Linked DNA regions of Homo sapiens: region 2 is linked to region 1. A link means that fine-mapping ties the variant in region 1 to the expression of a gene that starts in the linked region. Tissue or cell type: whole blood. Region 1 holds a variant in brackets; the other region holds the start of a gene. All regions are shown on one strand. Distances are between the middles of the regions.

What was found. PIP is the estimated chance that this variant, and not a neighbour inherited with it, causes the effect.
Region 2: PTCH1 starts here. The variant in region 1 is fine-mapped to the expression of PTCH1 in whole blood (INTERVAL, PIP 0.94).

Annotation. Positions count from the first base shown.
Region 1 is chr9:95,034,107-95,042,211 of GRCh38, reverse strand. All of the region lies in intron 13 of AOPEP (aminopeptidase O (putative)), which reads right to left. Among named protein-coding and RNA genes, the nearest start is that of MIR6081, 27 kb to the left of the region's middle. The variant T/C (reference allele first, on the strand shown) is at 3,943.
Region 2 is chr9:95,505,703-95,513,807 of GRCh38, reverse strand. It overlaps PTCH1 (patched 1), which reads left to right and starts at 4,542. Exons shown (of 24, transcript NM_000264.5): 1 at 4,542-5,647; 2 at 7,209-7,401. The coding sequence starts at 5,447. RefSeq lists enhancers at 776-1,748, 1,614-2,375, 2,376-3,139, 4,093-4,642, 6,228-6,861 and silencers at 2,303-2,352, 2,573-3,012, 5,287-5,606, 6,387-6,436, 6,967-7,206 and 2 more.

The sequences.
Region 1 (8,105 bases):
GCCTCCCGAGTAGCTGGGACTACAGGTGTCTGCCACCACGCCCAGCTAATTTTTTGCATTTTTAGTGGAGATGGGGTTTCACCCTGTTAGCCAGGATGGTCTTGATCTCCTGACCTCGTGATCCGCCCGCCTCGGCCTCCCAAAGTGCTGGGATTACAGGCATGAGCCACCGCGCCTGGCCAATGACATCCTTTAAAAGCTCTTGGCTACACTTGAATTCATCAGTTTCCTTTTAAAAGAGGAAGGTTTCTTCCCGTTCCCTCCCAGATCCCTAAGTGTGCTGCTTTATAGATGATTTCAGGCTCAGTTCTGAAGGTTGAAGAGTTTGTTGGGTTTGGGGGGAGGGGAGAAAAGGCGGCTAGATAGGAGGTCTACGGGCCTTCTGGGTCCGGTTCTTTAACTGCTCTGCTGCTTTTATAGCGCCACGGAGGCCGAGGCAAAGCGTGTCAATGAAACAAAGGACAAACATGAAACAAAGCGCCAGGGGCCACCGCGTCTTGATCAAATCTAAGAGCGATTCCAGTTAATGAGTAACATAACCCCACCACCTTTTTCATGGCTTTAATTATTACAGCCGGTAAGAAATATTCAAGCCATCCCTGTTTAGTGATGTTTTATTTACCCCTAAAGGCTGAAGTCTTCATTAAGTGCAGAAGAGTTGTGTTCAATTCAACACATATGGTGAGATCACAAACTGGCTTATTGTACTTTTTTAGTGTCTCTCCCTCTCCACACACACACACACACACACACACACACACACACCCCCAAGGACTCTGAGTACACAGTATACAATCTCAATCTGGCAATATCACAATTTCAAATTACCACAAGGATGATTTTTTTTTTTTAAATCTTATTTCTGAATAGTTTCCTTATTCTCAATTTTTCTAGCACAAATCCATCTTCTCATAAGGCCATTTCCTACACTGATTAAAGCGCAAGTCACTCTTGCTACAAAGGAGTCTTTCTTTGGCCCCAAATGTTTCACTCACATACATGAAAACTGGCTAAGTTCCTGAATGGCACAGAGCCTTTTGGTTTGAGAAGCCTGACAAAATGTCTAAGTAGTAAAAAGAACTGGTAAAACGTGAGAGCCTGTTATTTATTGCAATTCACATATCCACACGATCAACAGCCATTACTTGCTTTTTTTTTTTTTGGAGTGTGGAGACTTAACTCTGTCATGGAACTCCCTGATTATGGTATTTTCTGAAGTTCACAATGTTATGTATTCTAAAGGGAAAAAATTAACCAGCCATGGCTTTCCAGGTACAATCTTTGAGGAAGGGAGACTGTTTACCGTGTTTTCTATCAGAAAAGGAATGTTTTCAGCTCATCTGCACTTGGATCAATATTTTTATCTTTGGGTATCATTTGGCATTGCTGTCACTGGAGCTGCAAAAAACATGGGAGGAGCCAGGATAACCCAAAATTCTCATCCTGCACTTTGCAAAAGAGAGGACAAGCTGGGTGTCGCTCTGTCATGTGTGGTCCCACCTCCAGGAGCTTGGGCCAGGAGGGAACTGGGAATGCCTATGCCCATCAGCAATAGGCGTCCTGGGGGCACCTGGTCAGAAAGACATAGAGGAGGGGAGGGAGAAAGGTCCCTGCTCTCCTCTTTCATCGCAGAGATGGAGACAACTTCTGAGGAAGAGCTGGAATCCTGGGGTCAGAGGAGGCAGCCCAGGGGGAAATGCACATGGCCTGGGCCTCAATGCCGTTCCTTCAGAAAAAGGGGGTTACCACGTGGCTCTGTGGTGGCCCCAAGGTGGGAAGATGAACTTGGCTTTGTGTCTGATCATCCACTTTATTAGCAGGATCACATATCGTGGGACACAGCCTTTCTTCCGCTCCAGTTCTCAAGAAACCATTCCTGATAGCAATATAATTCTAAATGTGAGTAATAAAATGCATAATAAAGAGGCTGGGCACTACATTTTACAGAGGATGGGAAAGCAAAGTTGATTTTGTACGTGCAACTGTTCCTGTCAATGGACAAACAAGCCTGTGGGAAGGGACTGGGGCAGCAGAATCCCCTGGTGTGGCTCTGGCCTCAGGGTCCCCTGACTGTGTGCCTCCTCTCTCCTCTACCTACTGAGGTCCCCTGGGAGGGAGGAGAAGCCACCTGTAACCTCTTGCTGCTCAGGTATTAAAGCAGGGCTGATGAGGCCTGTGCCTCTGAGCTCCTCAATGCCCCAATGCTATTTTTATTATGTTCCCAGAATTAAATTCAAATAGCATCTTTAACATGCTTTAGTTCTGTGGGAAAAGGAAACACATCAATCATGCAATAACTATAAAAATTTAACATCCTGAAACCTGTTTTTACAAACTCTAAATAAAAAGTCAGCAATCTTAGTCTGCCATCACAAATCATTGTTCTTGACAATAAATAATGATAGTGGCTATTTTAAAGATTTCTTAAAATTAACATGAAAGGTGAATGAATGAATGAATGAATGAATGAATGAAGAAACATGTCTATAGCAGGGATAAACAAATTAGCAAGCTCCTAAGTTGTTTCTGTTTATACAGCCTGCTTAAAGCTTTTGAGAGAAATATTACTTATGTTAAATGTATTTAATTATAGGATAGGAATTCCTTAAAACTATGGTCCAGTTTTATTTTTTGTTTTTGAGACAGGGTCTCACTCTGTCACCCAGGTTGGAGTGCAGTGGTGTGAACACAGCTTACTATAGCCTGGACCTCTTGGGGCTCCGGTGATCCTCTCACCTCAGCCTTCCAAGTTGCTGGAACTACAGGTGTGCACCATCACACTTGCATCATTTTTTAGTATTTTTTTTTGTAGAGATGGGATTTCACCATGTTGCCCAGGCTTGTCTCAAATTGCTGGGCTCAAGTGATCTGCCCGCCTCAGCCTCCCAAAGTGCTGGGAATACAGGCATGAGCCACCGCACCTGGCCAACAATTTCAGTTTTTAAAAAATTTTCCCATAGGTCTTATTTTTCTCATGCCCACAATACTACTTTTCTTTGGACCATTCTCAATTGCTCCATCTTGCTCAAGATGCAGACTCCAACAGCATGGGCCGATCCCATGTTAACTCCACCATTATGCTATTCAATATTTAAAGACATTGAACACATGCTCACATGTGTTCCATTTGACTTCTGTCCATCCAGAAGGCCCACAATAACCCTCTTTCAAACCCAGAGCTGGTCACTTTGGCACATGAATCTAAACAGTGCTTGGTATAACAGGATCATTTCGATTGCCAAATTTACTGGCAATCCTATGTTAAGCCCGCCTCATCTGTGAACTCATCGAGGTTATCCGTAAGTCCCAATTTCTAGTACAGATATTAAGCCACACCCCAGAACTGCTCCTATCACCTCCCTACTGGCGGCAACGGAGGCACTGATGAGCACCCTTTGGGTCAGACCTGTCCGCCTAGAAGTAACCTGGACTTACCGAGCTTGCTGCTAGCAATAAGAAGATGTACAACTTCTAAGAATCTTAATGTAAGACTAATTAAAAGAACAGGAAAAGAAATGAAATCTCCCTTAACAAGACTCGTTCCCTTGAGGAGATGCCTTCTCTTGCAGGGCACCTTGGAGGCAGAGCACACCTGATGTGCTTGCGTTGTAGAGACATTATCACTGTGCAACAAAAGAAGTTATTTATAGCTGCTTTGTCTTTATTTCCTAGGTCTAACCACCAACATCTCTACTTAGCCAGGTAGTGGCCTGGATTTGTTTGCTATAGTTACTGAGACTTGTGGCAAACATGGTTTATATCATTAGGCTTTTTATTGTTTCATTCTGTTTTGGGGGTGTGTATGTGTTTATATTCAGATTTAAAATGTGTGCAAGTTGCCTAGAAACCAAAGTGCAGAATTCACAACCTAATGCATGCTAAATTGCAGCTGCTGGAAAACATGTTCCTTCACCTACAGTCTGGGCTGGGCTCATTCCTATC[T/C]ACCCTGTCATTCAAGTTTGATGGTATCTAGTTTTCCAGGGAGTTTGGTTTAGTTATATCATCACTTTTGGTATAACTGGAAAGAAAGTGTTTTTTGTTTTTCACCTTGCTTAAAAGCCCATTTTTTCTCCCCAGAAAACTTAGGTTCTTCTCCTGCATCAGGACAGTACATATAACTTTCGGTGTGGGAGACACAGGCTCAAGAGGCCGAGAACTTGCTTGCATGGAGCATGGACGGACAGACAGCTGGATGGAAGGTTTCTCACATTACTGTATTTCCCACACCGAGCACCTTTCATCTAAGGAGCTCCACACCATCTCATACGTGCCTGAGGTGCCAACCTTCCCCACCACGGCATGACACTCAGGGTCTCAAGGCAGAAAGCCGGTCAAGATCACTGTAAATTAGGAAGTGAAGCCAAATAAGCCCTTAGGAATGTATTAGCTTGCACTGAGAGGTACATTACTTACAGAAGCCCCTTCTACTGTTGCCGCAATTCTTCAGGAGTAAGCATGGCCCTTCCCCAAGAGCAGCTGAAGGCCCACAGACAGACGCTGAAGAGGAACAAATAGTGCTCCAGGGTTTTTCTTTTCAGTTTCACTAGCTGGACCATTCCTACTCCTGACATGCTCTTTCCTAAGTCCTTCAGCAATAAGAAACTGTGCCCAGAACAAAAGTTATGTTTTATTTTATGCCACAAAATTAGGAGTGGAAAAGAAATGTGAATATCTTATGAGAAAAAAATGCAAGTTAAACTTCCTGGAAAAGACCTGAATTCATCGAGCTTTGGTGCTTGTATACTATAAGCTCAGACAATAAAATTCTACCCACTCTCTTTAACTGAATGCGGTAATACTTTTGACAACAACTTTAAGGTGTCAAGGAGAAAAATATTTTTCATGGTTAACTGTACAGCCTATCATCTTCTATCAATGAACACTAATCAGTTTTCTGGCTGAAATAAAGAATGACTTCAGAAAGAGTTCTTAAGATAAAATGGTTAGGGATTGATAAAGGAAAACCACCCCCCTTTAAAAAATCAAAATAAAGGCTAAAAGGTGAGGTAAAAAAAAAATTATCCTGAAACTTCATAAAATAGCTATTTAAAACCAAATCAATAATACTGCTGTGAGGTCTTTTTAGAAAAAAATTAAAAGCCTCTATGGGTTTGCTACAATTTTCATGCCCACTCTTAGGCCGAAGACAGCTCATACATCTGTGGTGTTCAACTAACTAGCAACTTAGGTTCTGAATAAAAAGTACACAGAGATGTTACCACTTTCTGCAAGTAGCACACTGGAATGCATTATCTGCCACATCACAGGGAGCATCCATCCCATGACAATGACATTGTCAAAAGATGGCACACGGGCTGCAGACTGCTAAGGCAAGCTTGTGGCCAGGCTGGAAGACTGACAAGATGAAAAGATCTCTAAAAACCCACAGTCCCTTCAGGGTGACTTTAAGCCAAGGTGCCCAGGCAGCAGCTGTCCCTCCATCTCTCAGCTGAGCTATGCTTGGCCACCTCTGAAACAAACTATAGTTTTATTCCCCACAAAAAAAAAAGAAGAAGAAGAAAGAAGAACAAGAAAGGAGAAGAGGAGGAGGAAGAAGAGGAGGGCGGGGAGGAGGAGGAGAAATAAAACAAAACCCAACATTCTGACATTTACCGAAAGGAATGAAGTGCTGCTCTTGTTTATAAAGAGCAAGTAAACACATACTTTATGGCAGATATTTGAAGATAATTAAAAAGTAAGGAAACTTTTAAAAAAGATTAAATACCTTTAAAAGAGATGAAAGATTTTCTCTCACCCCAACCCCCAACTATGATTCTTGTCATTTAAAGGGCAACTACTATTAGGAATTTGTTTAAAAGTTGGAATTTTTTTTCCAAAGGCAAAGATTTAAAGCAAGTAAGACCTATCAGATAAATTCCATCTTCATGAATTATAACTTAAAGAAATAAAACATTTTATTTTCATGCTTTCAAATATGAAATGTTTTAAAATATCCTGAGAAATCAGTGGTAAAATCTTAAGAAAGCAGGCAAGATCAGTGGAAGATTCCACCTGTCCTCAAGCCTAGGCTTAGGGAAAATGAGATCACACAAGATCATATGCACATCCTCACAAAGGAACCTTTAAACAGGACAAAAATTCTTAAAGCCATGTAAATCACTAGACAGCAAAAATCTAGGGAGATTTAAAACACAAATATTTGCATAATCCCTTCTATTCAAGAAAACTCAGTGTGACCACCATCACGGAAACCTCTCCCGGGGGTCTACAGTCACCACCCTCAGACCTATTTTCTGGGTAAAGCATCTGAAAGCATGTGGTAGGAGGGAAGTCTGTCATAACTGAGTGAATGATTGGGGGCCGGTGCCTGCTTTTACTGACAAGCAAGTAAGGCCACACAGCAATTTCTTTAAAAAAAAAAAATTATCTGGGCTGGGCGCAGTGGCTCATGCCTGTAATCCCAGCACTTTGGGAGGCTGAGGCGGGCAGATCACCCGAGGTTGGGAGTTCAAGACCAGCCTGACCAACATGGAGAAACCTCGTCTCTACTAAAAAAAATACAAAATTAGCCGGGCATGGTGGTGCATGCCTGTAATCCCAGCTACTCAGGAGGCTGAGGCAGGAGAATCACTTGAACCCAGGAGCCGGAGGTTGCGGTGAGTCGAGATCGCGCCACTGCACTCCAGCCTGGGCAACAAGAGCGAAACTCCGTCTCAAAAAAAAAAAAAAAAAAAAAAAAAAAATTATCTGAAGCTGGTGTCAAAGAGATTTATTTTAAAAAACAGCAAATCACTAATACAAAGGAAATTCCTTAGAGATTTACTACCCACCTTAGATACCTTTACTTAGATTTTTCAAGATGTTCCAACTGGCCCTGAACTTGATTGCATCAAACTGTTAGGTCTGGCTGCTGACTGCTCCTACGAGATACATCACAGGAGCAGACTTCCCCAACATGCCAACAATTAATGTCCAGGTTCAGGAGAAAACTGGTATGTCATCAATGTAGGGATGGTTTTCTTTCAACCAAACACCGCATGTTCTCACTCACAGGTGGGAATTGAACAATGAGAACACACGGAAACAGGGTGGGGAACATCACACACGGGGGCCTGTCATGGGGTGGGGGACAGGGGGAGGGATAGCATTAGGAGAAATACCTAACGTAAATGATGGGTTGATGGGTGCAGCAAACCAACATGGCACATGTATACCTATGTAACAAGGCTGCACATGTATCCTAGAACTTAAAAGTATAAAAAAAAAAAAAAGAAAAAAGAAAAAGAAATGGTTTTCTTTCAAATATTAAATGAAATGTTGGGTGTTATTGGATGTCTTCCCACTTCTCTCCCAAGTTCATAACAAAACCTGAATCCTATCAATCAATCCAATGCAGCGATTAGAGGAAATCCCAGCAAGGCCCGCTTCTCAAGCTCCTCTTCTGAGAGATCTGTATCAGCAAACCAGGATCCGCTTTATCTCAGTGTGCTTCATGTTGAGTCAAAGACTGTCAGTTGATCAGAATTAAGAGCAAACTTGATCCAACCTTTCCCTATTAAAAACACAAGGGTATTTACATCTTCCAAACAAATGCCTTCAGCCCATATAAAAACTGATGAGCCAAAATGAGGCCTCGCAGGCCACTGTGTGTGATTCAAGGGAAAAATTATTAATATCCAAGTAGAGTTTCATGATTATCTCTCCTTTTCAAATTGCTTCAACCTCAGCCCTCATGTCATTCCTGACCCATGTATAATTCTCAAATTATAACAAGCATAGTCTCAAATCCTCTCATCTAAATGACCTGTACAGACACTTAAGTAGCATTTACCCATTTGGTAGATTCTTTGGTATTTCCTAATACTATTCTATCAAACCCACCTATATTGCAAGGAAGGAGAAAATGGGAGAAAACACGTCTTAATGGGTGTCTGGGTCTATTTTCCCTTGTCAAAGATCTCCTTTATGAAGACACCTGTCCAAATTACTATATAAAAGTACAGTAAAAATAAAGTGGAAGCAATCGCTACCTACATCTTGGCTTCAAGCAAAAAACAATAATATCACTATGTCTCAAATATAACTGAAAACTCCCTTGTTTTCAAATAGGTACCCTGGAATAAAGCAGTATCAACGTCAGGACT
Region 2 (8,105 bases), 470 kb before region 1:
GAAACAGAAGGTGGAAGGGAGTAGGGGAGGGGAGTCAAGCCCAGTAGTTTTAAATTTTGTAGCTGCTGAATCTCCCCCCACCCCGTCCCCGACTTCCCTGAAACCTTTTAGACTCATTTTCTACCATCACCTTTTAAGAATATACAAAAGCTGCCAATGAGAAAATAGTAAGGCATTCTTAGGGAGCCAAGAAAATGTGGTGGATGGTGGCACATTGGCTTGAGTTGAGTCGACTCAACTCATATTCAAGGTACCTGCTTGGAACTGCTGAAGCCCTGCCTTGACCATCACTCACATCCTGTATCCTGGGCTCCCCATGCAGTAAAAGAATATTGCATCAAATCCCCAATTCCTCTCTCCATCCGACCCTCTCAACAAAAATACTGTAGGACTTAAAATCATGTTTGCAATTCCTTGTATTTCTGGAAGAGTATTAAACTCAGTAGACAAAATTATAAATGGCCCCAGGGTCAAATTACTGGAATACATTAACCCCTTTATTCATTTATACTCTGCAAAACTTGCCAAATTACATTGGATTTTAAAGACTCATTTGGTTTGATCTGAGAAACCAGTGAAAAGTTAAATCTCACTGTGGTTTTTCATAACTCCACCAAGTCTGGCTTCCACAATTGCTTACCATTGGAACATCCCAACACAAAGGGCAGATGTTTTATTTCATTGTCATCATTTGGATAATCTGATGTCATTTTTGAAATGTGTGTGGTGTGGCCATGGATATTTGTAGTATTGGAACAGAGAAGGGAGGAGATGTGAGGGAATCCGGAGAGCTTAAGGCATCTGCTTTGAAAACTACACACTCCAATGAGAAGTCTTGGATCATGACTGGGAGACCAAAATGACAATTTATGCATTGAGATGAACTTTACTTGGAAAGGGGAAATGGAACACTCAGCTGTTGCTTCATAAAGGCTGGCAACTCCTGCTGGCTGATAAGGCCCCAAGTTCTCACTTATTTTTATTTGGTAACTGTCACAAGGGGTGCCAGAGGCAGAAGGGCCATTTAAAGGGACTGTCTTCCCGGAGGACACCTTAGCAGGTCTGGCTGCCCCAGTCTGCATCTCAGATCTGTGGAATCCTTGTGGTTAGTTGAAGTTAACAAACCCGGTGTGGCACAGCAGTCCCCTGCACAGGGCATGCATATTAAAGCCGACAATGCTTACAAATGTAAATAAGGGCAGATTGATTAGGAACAACATTATCGCTGGGAATGTCGCACTCGCATGCATCAGCAATGAGGCAAATTGGGGGCAGCCTCAGCCCTGACCACCCAAGTCGAGCAGGCTTTTACACTGGCTCCTCTTCCCTTTCTTAAAACGTTACAGAAACAAGGCCAATTAGATCCTCAAAGTAATTCATCTCTAAGTATGAAAAAAGCAGACCACAGGGGAAGCGGCGGGTGGGGGGTGGGGAGATTAAGATAGCGCTCGTTAGAGCCGAGGCTCCGGAGTGCGTCCTGGAACCCACGGGTAGAATTTACAGGCCGGGACCATTGTCTGAGATGCTGAAAAGTTAACCCATCAAACAGCGGGCGAGGGGGCTCAGGGCACTGAAAGCTCCGGGGATCAATGTTCAAAACGTTTAGGAATTAAGTCAAACTAAGGGATATGGGCCTGAGTGGAAGAGGCTTTGCCACTGAAATGACGTGCATGTGGCAGCCGCCGGAACCAGAGGACATGCAGCCGCGTGCGGAGAGTGAGGCGGATCCATTACGGGCACACAGCTTACCATTTCCTTCCAGAATTCCTTCTTCCAAACAAGCTATACTGAAATCCCTCTAGTAAAAGATTGAGACGAAACACTAATAGTTTTGGGCCAAAACGTGGTGGAGAAGTTTGAAAAGACAAACATAGCAACGTGTCTTTGGCTATATGGTTCCTTGCCCTCCAGCAAGCTTGAAATATAAAAAGGCTAACATGCAAAACTAGGGGTACTACCCCCCTCCCCCAGTTTTTAAAAAGCAATTTCCAGAAGCAAACACACAATGGTTCGACTTGAAGTGTCGGCATAACCATTCAGTAAGAAAAGCTAGAATAGTAAACCTCTTTTCCTGTTTTGTGCTATTTATCAAACCTAATAAACATCAGGATCGTACTCAAAGATGAAACTGGCAATGTGTGGAGCCGTCTGAGCTCTTTATCAACTCAGTGTCATTTTCCTCGCATGCTGCCCGCCTGCTTTCCGAGTTTCCGCAGCCCTTCCCTGAGGCACTCACAAAATCACGTGCTCCTTAAGCGGTCTGAGTTTTGAATTTCCGCGCTGGCCCGGTGCTCAGGTCCCCCTCCGGATCCCGCGAACGCCCCCAAACACCTCCACCCCGTCTCCCTCTCTTCCTCGGGACATCCCGCCCTGACCCCGGCACCGCATACGGTTTGCGGGTTAGGGGGTCGGGGGAAGGGCCTCCCCCTGAAGCCGGGGAGGAGGAGAGGCTGGAGGGAAGGTGGCCAGGCTGGTGGGGGAGGGGAGATTGAGGGAGGGAGCGGGGCGAGGGAGGAAGGAGAAGGCGCAGGCCGAAGGAAGGAAGCGGGGAGGGGAAACCGCCGGGGAGGAAGGAAGGGGGCGGGGAGAGCCGGCGGACGGGCCCCCTGCGGGAGCCGCGTGGACCGCCCCGGTGGCCGGCGCGCCCCGCCGCAGCCCCCAGCGCGCCCGGGCAGCCAGCGCGGGGCCGCTGAATGGGCAGGGACTCGTGAGCGCGACCATTGGCCGGTCGCGGGGAGGCGGCGCGGGCATTGGGCAGCGTAAGGGGGCCGGTCCGCCTTCAGGAATGTACTACGGCGCGTCCGGCACGTCCGTCCGCGCCGGCTGGGCGCGCGCCTCGCCTGGGCTCTCGGGAGACCGCGCTGGAGGCCCGGAGCCGGCCCGGCGCATCCGCCTCCCTACCTACTCTGCCCCGGCCGCGCGGGCGCGGGGAGTCCGGGAGCCGGGCGCGCGCGCGCACCGGGCCTCCTGGCGCGGGGTCACGTGGCCACCGGAGCTCCGCCTTCTCCCTGCTCCTCCCCCTTTCCCTCCATCTGGGTTTCTTTCTTTCCTTTCCTTTCTTTCTTCTTTTTTTTTCAATGAACATACACCGTGCGCATCTTAAAGCCACACCGCCCCATTTCACGACTTCACTAGACTTCTCGCTACTGCCAGTCCCTCTGCAGTTCAACCCCGTTTAAAAAAAAAAATAAAGTGAAGCAAATCAAGGGTTTGCGGGTCGGGTTCCTACCGCAGGGAGGAACGTAATAACTTGGAAACGTAAGAAAAACACATTCCACTTTCCGAAAACAAAAATTTTTTTAAATAAAAAGCCTAGTTGTGTAGACGTGTCTGGCTCCAGAATCCACCTCAAAGGGTCGCGTGTTTTCCCCCTCCGCGGGAAGCGAATCCCCGGGATGCCTTGGTGACACTGGACGCGGTGTCGGGACGAATCCTCGCGATCCGCGCACAGTTTGTTTTCAATGAATCCAGCATCGGGGCATTTATAATCTCCTACGTCATACTATTATTAAATATAACATGCATACCGAGTTTTGTAAAAAAAAATACTGACTATATAAACATCTGGTTAATAAAAAGGGGTGTACAAATGAACCCAAAATAATCAGGAAAACTTTACTCTCTCAAGGAAACAATTCCGTTTCTCTAAGTTGTAAAAAAAGATTCTGTTGTTTCTCTTTTACTTATGTCACATTCGAGATTCAAATAAAAACGCCTCTGCCTCTACAAGACTGCTTCGGTGTCTGGATTCCACGTTTATAGAACACTGACTCCTTCAAACCAAGACTGTGTTTTTTTTTTTTTTAAGTTGGGGGGAGAAAGCGGCTGGGGGGCAGACGGATTTTAAGAAAGATGGCTTTTCCCAACGTCCTTGCTTTCCTCTTTAACTTTCCATTCTGTTTATCTTAATGCGAGGCGTTGTTCCCTGCAAGAGCCTAAGTCTTCCCTTTAGTTATAAAAGAAAAGAGAAGAGGAAAAAAAAATCTGGCACACACTGGCGCACTATCCAGCACGCTGTCATTATTGGTGCAGGCCTGGGAATGCGAGCCGGACCTCCCAGTATTTGCTGCAGCTTGAGGCCAAGGTGCCTCTGAAAGGCTTTTCTTTGAGGAATTTCAGAAATTGTTTAAGCGCTTAAAAAAATATTACATTTCCCCCCGTGTCTACCGCGAGGCAAATGTTCGTGTGTGTGCGTGCGCGCGCGTGTGTGCGCGCAAAGGCATCCCACAAAAAGAAGACACTGTTGAAAAGAAAAGGAATAAGAGAGAAAGGAGGGGGAGCATTCCTTAATGGAAGTATTGCATGCGAGAAGGTTGGCGCTCTCAGAGGCTGCCCCGAAGCCGAGGATGCACACACTGGGTTGCCTACCTGGGTGGTCTCTCTACTTTGGTGAGCTGTTGCTAAGCAGCTAATAATAGTCATGTTTGCTGAGTAATTTCTGCCCTCCGCGAGCCAATCGCGTCGCAGAAACCCAAGCCATCTGACAGCCCCGGGGGCGGGAGCTCCAGCCTTTTTCTCTTTCGCTCGCTCTCTCCCCCTCCACCCCCTCCCCTCCCCTCCTCCTCTTCTTTCTCCAAATGGAGAGAGTTCTTTTTTTTCTTCTTCCATCTCATCTATTGAATCAAGGAGCTGCTGCGGCCGCTGCCCGCTGCACACACACAGAGCGGAGTCCCCAGGTCCCGGGAGCGAGAGAGGCGCGCTGCACGGGGACAGAATGGTCCAGCGGGTTGCCGAGGAGCACAAGAAAGCAGAGTCCGGGACCGAGCAGCCACCGCGAACCCAGCAGCCAGAGCCCGAGCAGCCCGAGCAGCAGCTCCTGGAGCCGCCACCGCCAGCAGCAGCCACCGCGGGAGCAGCGGCAGCTGCGGCTGCCCGGGCCCGGCAGCGCTGAGACCCGCCGGGCACCCTCGGACCCCGCGGCGGCGGCGGCTCTGCGCTTGCCCTCCGCGGCCGCTCGGGCGACCCGGGAGGCGCCGAGAGAGCCAGCGCGGCCGGCGGGAGCAGCGGGGATTCGCTGGCTCTTTCTGCAGTGAAGGGGTCGCGGCGCGGGGCGGGGGGCGGGTAGGGGGAGTTGGGGACCGCAAGGAGTGCCGCGGAAGCGCCCGAAGGACAGGCTCGCTCGGCGCGCCGGCTCTCGCTCTTCCGCGAACTGGATGTGGGCAGCGGCGGCCGCAGAGACCTCGGGACCCCCGCGCAATGTGGCAATGGAAGGCGCAGGGTCTGACTCCCCGGCAGCGGCCGCGGCCGCAGCGGCAGCAGCGCCCGCCGTGTGAGCAGCAGCAGCGGCTGGTCTGTCAACCGGAGCCCGAGCCCGAGCAGCCTGCGGCCAGCAGCGTCCTCGCAAGCCGAGCGCCCAGGCGCGCCAGGAGCCCGCAGCAGCGGCAGCAGCGCGCCGGGCCGCCCGGGAAGCCTCCGTCCCCGCGGCGGCGGCGGCGGCGGCGGCAACATGGCCTCGGCTGGTAACGCCGCCGAGCCCCAGGACCGCGGCGGCGGCGGCAGCGGCTGTATCGGTGCCCCGGGACGGCCGGCTGGAGGCGGGAGGCGCAGACGGACGGGGGGGCTGCGCCGTGCTGCCGCGCCGGACCGGGACTATCTGCACCGGCCCAGCTACTGCGACGCCGCCTTCGCTCTGGAGCAGATTTCCAAGGTGCATTTCAGACTCTCTCCTCCCACTTTCTCTTCCCTCCTCTAACTCTTTGGGATCGCCCCCGCCACACACAAACACACACACTCTCTTCCTCTCTCTCTCACACACACACACACACTCACTCACACCTCTCCAGGAAAAGCAGCAGACAAATGGGGATTGAAAAATTCAAACCCTCCCTCTGGTCCTGGGAGGAAAGGGCTGTCTGAGGTCCGCAGGGGGTGGAGGTGTGTGTGTGTGCGTGTGTGTGTGTGTATACACACGCCCTCCCTGGTGTGCCTTTTCCGGAGCACTGGAAAGCCGTCCACGGCGGACCACCTCAAGGGCGGCCGCGGCACTGTCCTGCCCCGTGCCCCCTGCCCTGAACTTCTTCCTCCTGCGCCCCTGCCCCTATTTGCAGCCTAAACTCCTGTACGGCTGCCACATTTCTTAACATCTTGGAGGGGGAGGCGGAGTGGAGAGAGGCGGAGAGAGGAAGGGGGGAGGGAGCCGAAATAAAGGTGGTTTCCTTTTTTGGCAGCCAGTTTTGGTTTTGTTGAGCATGAAATCTCTGCTCCCTTAAAAAATTATTCTCGGAAAAAGATATCCCCCCCGTTTTCCAGGTTTTGAGCCGCCTCTCCTTAGGGCCTGGTCGGGGGAGGAAAAGTTGTAAACAAATTGCCACCTTAAATTCGCGGTGCGAGTCTGCGGAGCTGCCGGGTTCATTGTGTTTACGAGGCTCGCTGAAATGTGTGGAATCCAGGGAAGGCGAGCACCCAGACGGGGGCCCGCCGGGGCCGCGGCCAGCGCCGGGGAAATGCCGCGCCGGGGAGCAGCCTGCGCCGGCCTGAGCCCTTCCCTTTGCACTCGGCTGTTTTTTACGTTTAACCAGAAAGGAAGGGAGAGGAGGGAAAGATCCATGTGGCTGCCCTCTTCCGATCACAAATATTGTCGTAAGTTGCAGCTGGCTGCCCCACTTCCTAATTCAGCTCACACAGCCTCTCCCCACGCTATGGAAATGCGTCGGGAGTGAACTCCGGCGGCCGCGCTCACCACGTGGATCCCCACTTACTACCATTCTCGGCGGGGGTCCAGTTGGGGGAACCCGCAATATGTTGTTCCAAAGAGCGCTCGCCCCTAGCGCCCGTCCCCGAGGGTGATGGACAGAGCAGGACTGGTTTGCTGGCTCCTGAACCTTGGGCTCCATCGCTGGGATTACGCAGCCCCTCCCTTCTCAGCTCTGGGGTGAATATTGTCTGTGTCGAGTGGTTTCTCTCCTCTCTACCTCGGCTTCCTCTTCTGTATTGCAGCCCCAGTGCCCCAAGTCGCTCAGGGATCCCGCGGGTGGGGGCGCCCTGATGTCCCCGAGGTGCAGCTCCCACGCTGCGGCCCGGCTTTATGACCGAGCCCCCCATGACGCTCAGATCCGCCGGGGCTGCAGTCTCGAGGGCGAGTCCGTGTGCCGCGGCCACCCGCGCCCCCACGGCTGTTGGGGGCTCACCGGGCGGGTGCGCGCAAGCGGGCGTGGGCGCGCGGGCCGCGACTCCCCGGCGCTCACTCCTCCCTTCTGCTTCGTCCCCAGGGGAAGGCTACTGGCCGGAAAGCGCCGCTGTGGCTGAGAGCGAAGTTTCAGAGACTCTTATTTAAACTGGGTTGTTACATTCAAAAAAACTGCGGCAAGTTCTTGGTTGTGGGCCTCCTCATATTTGGGGCCTTCGCGGTGGGATTAAAAGCAGCGAACCTCGAGACCAACGTGGAGGAGCTGTGGGTGGAAGGTAAGAGCGCCCGCCGCGGCGCCCGCGCCCCCGGCCCGGTCCCTCCTCGCGGTTGATAGAGATATTCGCCAGCGCACACCTAGAGCCTGGCTGCGGCCGGCGAAACCCCCTGCCCGCACCCGGGGGATTGTTTATTGTTTGGGCGCCTGGCCGGGAGCCAGGCCCGCCCGACAAAGGCCGCGCTGTAATCTACTCGGGGCGCTGCGCCGGCCGAGGTGTGGTGGGAGAGAGCGGCGGGGGCGGGACGGGGGCGCGGGGCCCCTCCGGGACGGACCACTCTGCGCGCCGGGGGCCCCGGGCCCGCCGCCGCTGCCGCTGTCCGCCTGGGCCGCGCCCCGAGAGGCGCCCCGGGGCTGGCCTCTCCCGGCCCCGCTCCGCGGCCCGGCTTTCTTCTCTCCCCCACCCCCACCCACCGCGTCCAAAGAAAAAGGAGTCGGGGAGAGCCAGAGGCCACCCCTCCGGCTGGCTGGAGTGTGCGCGCCCCCGGCGGCCGCGGCCGCCGCGCTGGGGAGGGCCGGGGGCGGGCGCAGCGCGGGGCTGCGGAGGCGGCGGCGTGTGTGGTCCTGTTTTTGGACAGCTTTCAACTCTGAGGGAAAAAAACATTTGTCTCAAGGTACAAAAAACGCGGGGTGGGGGTGGAAGGAGTGGAAAAAAAAATAGTAAGGCACAGACTGGAACGCATGTTTGCAAAGTAGATTAATGTT